2 separate regions of the Homo sapiens genome follow, and region 1 is linked to region 2. Evidence: fine-mapped expression QTL. A gene starts in region 2. The other region holds a variant in brackets. All regions are shown on one strand. Distances are between the middles of the regions.

Region 1 (4,392 bases), 200 kb before region 2:
ATCTGCATACTTATACAGAGGCCAGAGAGATGAAAAATTAACCACTTGGTAATAAATCTGCCTAGTCCCTCCTCTCAGCACTTCCCCAACCTTACTGGCATTCAGAAGCTGATTATTCCCATCATATATCATAAAGTCGAGCCAAATACCAAAGACAGCCAACTGACCCAGATAATCTTCAGCTCCCAATGTAAGCTGTGGCCTGTTAACTTTTCTGGAACTTAGGAATCATGAGTTGGAAGGACCTGCTCATAGTTCTTACCTTACCCTGTGGCAACTCAGAGACTAAAGCCATTCTGGCCCCAAAATGCTACGGACAATCTTACTTGCCCTGGTTTGAAAGTCCTTTTTAGCTGACCTTTAGAATATGGTCTATCAGACCTACGTGCTAGAACCAGCTTTTTCTGAACTGGTAACTTTAAAATAGTGGGTTTAATTTACTGTTGTTCTTTTTTTTTTTTTTTGAGATAGGGTCTCTCACTCTGTTGCCCAGGCTGGAGTGCAGTGGCATGACCTCGGCTCACTGCAACTTCTGCCTCCTGGGTTCAAGCGATTCCCGTGCCTCGGCCTCCTGAGTAGCTGGAATTACAGGTGTGTGCCACCATACCCGGCTAATTTTCCTATTTTTAGTAGAGATGGGCTTTTGCCATGTTGGCCAGGCACTGGTCTTGAATTCCTGGCCTCAAGTGGTCCACCTGCCTTGGCTTCCCAAAGTGTTGGGATTACAGGCGTAAGCCACCGCGCCCAGCCTAATGTGCTGTTGCTTTTAATTTTACTCTTTAACAGACTTGATTTTATATTCAAACTCCAAAGCAACCCAACAAAAGGGGTAATTTGGAAAAATTATTATCTTGAATTGCTGGAACTCTCACATACTGCTAGAGTGTAAACAGGCACCACCACTTTGCAAAAAGTTTGGCAGCATCTATTAATCTGAACATATGCATATCCTATGATCCACTCTTAGGTTCATAAATACTCAATTCTACACCTTAGGGATATATACAACAGAAATGTACATATATGTCTTATCAAAAGACGTGCTCATGTATTTCACAACAGCACAAACTATTCATAATAACTAAAATCCAGAAATCAGTCAAATGTCCAACAGAACAGACTAATAAATAGTACAGCCACAGAACACTGTATAGCAAACAGAAGGAACAAATGTACAACCACAAACAATAATGTGGACACATCTCAGATATACAGTGTTGAGTGGAAGAAGCCAGATGTGGCCGGGCATGGTGGCTCATGCTTGTAATCCTAACACTTTGGGAGGCGGAGGCGGGAGGACTACTTAAGCCCAGGAGTTCAAGACCAGCCTGGGCAATATAGTGAGCCCATGTCTCTACAAAAAAATTTAAAAGGCAGTGGGGTGTCGTGGTGTGCACTTGTGGTCCCAGCTACTCAAGAGGCTGAGGTGGGAGGATGGCTTGAGCCTGGCAGGTTGAGGCTGCAGTGAGCCCTGATAATGTCACTGCACTCTAGCCTGGGTGACAGAGTAAGGCCCTGTCTGTCTCAAACAAAACAAAACAAGGAAAGCAGCCAGACATAATAAATGTAATTGTGGTTACATTTAGATAACATTCAACCAGCCCAACTAGTCTACGGCGCTAGAAGTCAGGACAGTTGTTATCCTTGGAAGGGAAGGTGACTCAGTATGATGAGGGCCTCTGTGTGTTGGTTACACATGAATATTCTCTGTTAAAACTCATCAATTCTGCAAGTATAAAGGAAGTAAAAAAAAAAAAAACTCAGCTGAATATTTATGATTGTGCATTATCCAAAATGTACATTTTATTTCAATAAAAAATCATGAGACTATCTTGTCATAGACTAAAAATAAAAAAAAAACCTCTCATCATGCACTGCACTCAATAATTCTTTCCTTTACAAATTCACTTTAGAAAAGCCTATTTTTGTGAGAAAGTAAAAAGATTAAAATGACCTATTTCTCTTCCAAAGACTATTTTTATGAACTCTAGTTTGCGGAACTGCTTCACTAGAATAGCTGTATCTGAATCTGCTATAAATCCCCTTAGTCTTCCGTCACGGGAGGCAGCACTGTGGCACTGGCCTCACTTTGGAATCAGATGGAGCTCAGTGTGAATCCTGGCTCTACCATGCAGCAAAGCTATGCGGCCTTGCCATGCATCAGTTCTTCAACTGTAAGGTGAGAATGAGAAATAAGTGAAACAATGTGGGTGAGGGGCATGGCATACAAACACCCATTATCATCAAAATCTCATTTAGGGAAGAAAGTAGACGCACCTCTCTGCCCATCTTTTACAAAGTAAATGCAGATGCTAGCACTCCTTAGATGTTCTGTGAGCAGTTAATGTGAATATGATGCTTTAGCACCATCAAGAGCCAAATACCAAGTAGCTACAGTAAACTTCCTCTTAAAAGTTTATCCCAGTATTTCAGAAACTGAATTTTTATTTATTTATTTATTTTTCAGAGACAGGGTCTCACTCTGTTGCCCAGGCTGGAGTGTAACGGTGCAGTGTCACAATCACAGCTCACTTGCAATCTCAAACTCCTGGGCTCAAGTGATCCTCCAGCCTCAGCCTCCTGAGTAGCTAGGACTACAGGTATGCAGTACCACCACACCTGGCTACTTTTTTTTTTTTTTTTTGGTAGAGACAGCTTCTCTCTATATTGCCCAGGCTGGTCTCAAACTCCTGGGTTCAAGC[G/A]ATCCTCAAGTCTTGGCCTCGCAAAGTGCTGGGATTAATGGTGTGAGCCACCAAGCCTGGCCTAGGAATTTAATTTTTAAATAACTATTGTTCTTGAAAAATTACTTTGAGATGTGAACTCTTAAGCATTTGTATCTTTTGAAAGCTTAACTCTGGAGAAAATCTGATTCCATACAAAGAATTTAAGATCCACTCAAGTAGACAGAAATAAGACTGAGAAAGAATGCACCTTGTTGTGAGCAGGGTAAACTTCTAAGGCTATCTCCACAAATGTCATTTAGAGTGGCAAGTCTGACGATGGTAGTAATTCTTATGATTGCAAATTAATCCTGTGAGTGTGTGTAAACGAAAGCTTCCCAAAGTAAACTTAGCCCTGTTTTTCGGTAAAGTCAATAAAAACTACTAAAACTACAGCCTAAAATATATTTTGGGTTGTGAATAAGTGTGTTGATAATACCGTGACTTGGACAGAGAATTTGCATCCCATCCCCAAAAGCACAAACTTTGGCTCTAAGCACTTGGTATATTACTGTGGATAAGCAAACTATAAAAATCTTACAAGATGACTTTCACTAGACTAACATAAAACACAGCACACACCCATATATATTGCCCTCTAAGAAGAGAAGGAATGTGGGGTTTGGGGGGTGAACTGGAATTAAAAGTACATCTTAGGTTTTAATGATGCTGGCAGTTAAGCTTGAAGGAACTATGAGTTCAACTTCCAAAGTAGTTAAAATTTAGTAAACAATAGCCAACTCGAAACAGTTCTCACAAGCTACAAATGGGACAATTTTAGCATCAAAAAAAGCCAGGCACAGTGGAACGTGCCTATAATCCAGCTACTTCAGAAGCTGAGGCAGGGGGATTGCTTGAGCCCAGGAATTTGGGTCCAGTCTGGGCAACTCAGTGAGACCCAACCTCTTTTAAGAAGCAACAAGAAACACAAATAGTATCTATGATAGACTGAAACACACAAAATATTAAAAAATTTATAATTTTACAATATTAAAAATATACACAAAAAAACCCTTTGCTGGTCACCTTTGGTTACTGAGGGGCAGCAACTCATTATACAGATAACCAATAGAGGGAAAATATGAAGCATTTATCCAGGCTTTCCTATAAGAACTGATTTTCAGGGTAACTAACTGAGACACAGTCTCGCTCTGTCACCCAGGCTGGAGTGCAATGGCACAATCTTGGCTCACTGCAACCTCCGCCTCCTAGGTTCAAGCAATACCCATGCCTCAGCCTCCTGAGTAGATGGGACTGCAGATGTGCACCATTACACCTGGCTAATTTTTGTATTTTCAGTAGACACAGGGTTTTGCCATTTTGGCCAAGCTGGTCTCGAACTCCTGACTCAGGTGATCCGCCCGCCTCGGCCTCCCAAAGTGCTGGAATTACAGGCATGAACCATTGCGCCCGGCCTAAAATAGCTAATTTAAGAAGCAATTCTGAACGCTCAATTCTAAAACAATTTAGTCGAATGGGGATTTTTATAATGGATGATCCGACTGACAACACCAGAACTACTGATCAATCTTAATTACCACAAAAAGAAAAACTGACACTACAAGAATGCCTGACCTCATAAGTGAATCTTGTCTGGGTGTGGTAGAGCTCATGCCTGTAATCCCAGCACTTTGGAAGGTCGAGGCGGAAGGATTGCTTGAGCCCAGAAGTT
Region 2 (4,392 bases):
AAAAATTCCTTAGTATGGCACTCCCCAACAGTTTTTCAGTTCTATTTCCTGTAAAGCTTGCACACACATCCAACCCTGTGGTCACACTGAACTACTGAATATTCCTAGGATTTGTCCCTTGTTCCACTCGTATGTCTTTGTTCACGTTCCTTTCATTTTGCCATTCAGGAGTAACCACTCCTTTCTCTGAACTCTTGGAGTACCTAATACCTCCTTTCCAGCATTTACCACTTTCCATTTCCTTCACACAATGTTGTCATCTTCTCTACTAGGCTCTAAGTCCCTTGAGGCAGGGCCTTTGTAGCCTCCACACCAGCTTAGCAACTGATACACAGAGCACTCAGATGTCCGTGCAGGGATCTCTCTATTCTCCACACAACACAGCACCATGCCCTGTTCAGATGCACTAATTATTTGAATGAATAAATGATGTTCCACCCCCACACCCCGGTCTTCTAGCCAATGTAGAGAGAAAGAAAAGAGATACATGTTGAACTGTTTGCACACAAAAGTGACGGGATATGGCACTAATTCTTCATACAGCCTCAAAGGTCACATCTTTTTTTTTTTTTTTTTTTAAGTTTCATTCTTGTCGCCCAGGCTGGAGTTCAATGACACGATCTCGGCTTACTGCAACATCCGCCTCCCGGGTTCAAGTGATTCTCCTGCCTCAGCCTCCCGAAGTAGCTAGGATTATATGCGCCCGCCACCACGCCCAGCTAATTTTTTTGCATTTTTAGTTGAGACGGGGTTTCACCATGTTGGCCAGGCTGGTTTTGAACTCCTGACCGCAGGTGATCCACCCGCCTTGGCCTCCCAAAGTGCTGGGATTACAGGCGTGAGCCACCACGCCCGGCCTAAAGGCCACATCTTAAAACCATACTCTGTAAAATCCTGACCCAGCTTCAGAGCTACGCCACTGCGTTGTTTCCTTTTGAAGCTGAATTCCACTGAACCTATACTTGAACCTTATCTAGAGGACTACAGCGTGTAATTGGGACAATCCCCTTTCTCATTCCTAAGAGGTGATGTGGCCGGGCGGACCTCCAGATTTCCAGCAACTATGACTGGCACTCTCCCCGCGACCAGCAAGTGCCACCTTGTCCTTTGCCTAACGTTGTACAGTTTACGAAATCAACGAACCAACACGTTGATTTCATCTTCCCTGCAAACTGGGGAGACAAGACAAAAATGCTCACCTCCCTAAAAAAACAGATTAGAGGGGAGATGGGGAAGAGAAGAGGCGTGGCTACGAGCTGTGGCGGGGAAGGCGGGTGGAATCCCGGAGCCCGAGCTGGAAACCGTTCCCCGCTCAGCCATGACCCGGGCTGTTTATTCGCATCAGGAGGCGCGGGTGGCTCGCAGAGGGCGAGAAGACCCTTCCCGCTTTCACACTGCAGGCAGCTAAGTCGCCGAGAAAGGCAGCAACTTGACGCCCGACCCCGCCACCCAAACCCGCTCGCTCTGCGACCCCAGAGCAGCCGGCGCCAACCCGTCCCCTTCGCGACTCCGCCGGAAGTCCCGCCTGCACCGCCGCCGCGCCCCATTGGGCCGGGTGCTGGGGCATCCCGGGCGCTGGGTGCCCCGAGCGGCTACGACGAGTCCCAGGTGGGGCCGGGCTCCAGGCCCGCGGGGGAGCGGAGCCGTGCGCCGCAGGCGGGCTCCGTGACGCCGGGTGGGGAACGCCGGGCCGGTGGCGGGACTTCCGCCACGGGACTCGGAAGGGGCCGCGCCGCCGCTGCTGGGAGTTGTAGTCCGGCCGTGGTTGGGGGAGCCGCGGCTCATGCGCGGTGCACAGAGGCTTGTTTCACATCTGTAACAACAGGTGAATTGGGCTTTTTATTCTCCCCTTTCGTGCCCTCTTGAGGAGCCTGCCGCGGCCGGGGGTGGTCGTCGTGAGGAGGGGGCCCGGTCCGACCGCCAGCCTGGCGGAGAGTGGGGCGGAGACGCCGGCGGGCCCGAGGAGCAGGCCGGGCATCCTAGGCCTGCCCGGGAAGCCGGCCCGGCCGATCCGTGGGCAGCCAGGCCTCGGCCTGCCGTTGCCATGGAGCCCGGGCGGGGGCGGGGGCCAGACCGGTCCGCCGGGGCGGGCCTCGCAGCCAGGGGCTCCGCGGAGGCCGTGGGAGAGGCCGCTTCATTGGCGCAACGACGCCTTCGCCTCGGGATGCGCCGTTTCCCCAGGCAGGGCCTGGAGGAAGCCTCCTGAGTGCCCCGAGACCTTTGTCTACTTCTCCTCCTTCCCGGTGCTGCCCGGACCGTTCGTCCAGAGGGAGGCCCGGTGCCTTCTGGCCCCCCTAGTTTGCCCCCTTTTGCACCGACCTTGTCACTGGGGGAGGCCAAGGGGTGAGGTATTCTTTGTTTGCTGGTGGTAACTTGTCCCATTTAGCAGGGGAAGACCAAATGCATGTTGGGTCCTTTGTTTGCAGTGAACTGGAGTCCCAGGGGTCCTCAGAAACCCTAAGCCAGGGATATGGCATATCTAGTCGTTGTGTAGCAACATTGGTCACTTGAATTATGATTTTTCAAGGCAGAGGCTGTTTCACTTTACAACCCCACTCCATGAGGGTTTGCCATACACTAGCAGGTAGACTGCAGAAGGCCACTTACAGGCTTTCAACCTGGTTTTAGTTGCAGCTTATGGGCCAGAGTGAAATGAGACGTTGTCTGGTGATTTCCCTTGAAGTTTCTTGCAAGGTGGTAACCCCACTGTCATTGTGGGTTTTAACTACATCTTGTAATTTACACTTAAATCTTAGAGATTTAAGGCGATGTGCAGAAACTACATCCTTTGCTGCGTTTTCTACCGGTGTTGGCTCTTTATCCCTAAAAGATAGTTGCTCTTCAAGTGTTTTAATTTATGTAGCTGTGATACAAAGTTTTATTAGGGCCGGGAGCGGTGTCTCACGCCTGTAATCCCAGCACTTTGGGAGGCCGAGGCGGGTGGATCACCTGAGGTCAGAAGTTTGAGACCAGCCTGGCCAACATGGCTAGACCTCGTTTCTACTAAAAATACAAAAATTAGCCGGGCATGGTGGCGTGCGCCTGTAACCCTAGCTACTTGGGAGGCTGAGGCAAGAGAATTGCTTGAACCCAGGAGGCCGAGGTTGCAGTGAGCCAAGATCGCGCCATTTCACCCCAGCCTGGGCAACAAGAGCGAAACTCCTTCTCAAAACAAAACAAAACAAAAACCACACACAAGTTTTATTAGCTGTTGGACCTTTCTTGCCCCTTTCAGCCTTTGAAGATAACAGTATAATATGTCTCAAGGAATGAACCGTAGTACATTTAGGCAACAGCATAATATCCTGGAAATAAGAAAATTAGCCTAGTATAAGCATGGAGGGTTTTGGAGTCAGCATGCTTCAATGCTGATTTCCATCTGCCCTGAGGCAGCTATGGGATCTTGGGCAGGTTGTGTAACCTGTGCTTCAGTTTTCTTCTCTGGAAAGATAATTCCTACCTCACTGGATAGTTGCCTGGATTAAATGGGGTAAAGTCTATGGAAGTATGTTGTGAACTGTAAAAATGGTATTCAACTTTGAGTTATTGTTATTTTCCCAATCTTGAAGAGTATTATAGCTTCTTTATGTTAGATTATCATAATTATTATGGGATTAGAACTCAAAGTGGAAGTAGGTTTTGCTCTGGGCTTCCAGAAAATGCTTTTCAGGCTTACAAGGCTTTCTTTACCTTGACATCTTCTTAGATGATGTCAGAAGACTTCAGCACTTCTACAGGTGCTGGTGTAGGACAGCTTACAATTTAATGGGCCTAGAATGGGTCATGGTAAGTCCTGATTTGTAAGGCCATTTTGTCCAGTATGTGCCCTTCATGCCACTAACAAAATTTGTCCTTGTTAGAGCTAGTAAATGATGGTTGGAGCAACTTTCTTTCCCTATGGGGCCTCCACTGTATTGACTCAGCGTTGTACTTCTCAGGAGGAGGCCCAGCCTCGTGATGAGGAATAGCAAGGAGAGAATTCAGCTCCAGTTCAAAAGCCTACAAAATCTGAGACTGTCATTGCTTTTATAAGGTAAGTTGATTTAGCCGTGCACAGAGCAGTGGTGGATCTGATGCTCAGCTGTACTGTAAAACAAGAGGTATGTGTTAAACCTATTTCTGACCATTTTGGAAGAAGGATATCATTTATTTTATTTTGTTTTATTTTTGAGACAGAGTCTCGCTTTGTCCCCCAGGCTGGAGTGCAGTGGCGCGATCTTGGCTTGCTGCAACCTCTGCCTCCCAGGTTCAAGCAATTCTCCTGTCTCAGCCTCCCAAGTAGCTGAGATTACAGGCGCCTGCCACCATGCCCAGCTGATTGTTTTGTATTTTTAGTAGAGACTGGGTTTCACCATGTTGGCCAGGCTGGTCTCAAACCCCTGACGTCAGGTG

Evidence for each region. PIP is the estimated chance that this variant, and not a neighbour inherited with it, causes the effect. A credible set is the group of variants that fine-mapping cannot tell apart.
Region 1: its variant is the best candidate, but not a certain one, in a credible set for the expression of DHX30 in whole blood (TOPMed, PIP 0.63).

The regions. Positions count from the first base shown.
Region 1 is chr3:47,604,251-47,608,642 of GRCh38, forward strand. All of the region lies in intron 26 of SMARCC1 (SWI/SNF related BAF chromatin remodeling complex subunit C1), which reads right to left. The region is part of intron 2 of LOC124906234 (a long non-coding RNA gene); the gene reads left to right. Among named protein-coding and RNA genes, the nearest start is that of CSPG5, 28 kb to the left of the region's middle. The variant G/A (reference allele first, on the strand shown) is at 2,703.
Region 2 is chr3:47,801,388-47,805,779 of GRCh38, forward strand. DHX30 (DExH-box helicase 30) reads left to right here and starts at 1,751. Exons shown (of 22, transcript NM_138615.3): 1 at 1,751-1,825; 2 at 3,939-4,033. RefSeq lists silencers at 1,322-2,171, 3,349-3,545 and an enhancer at 1,896-2,421.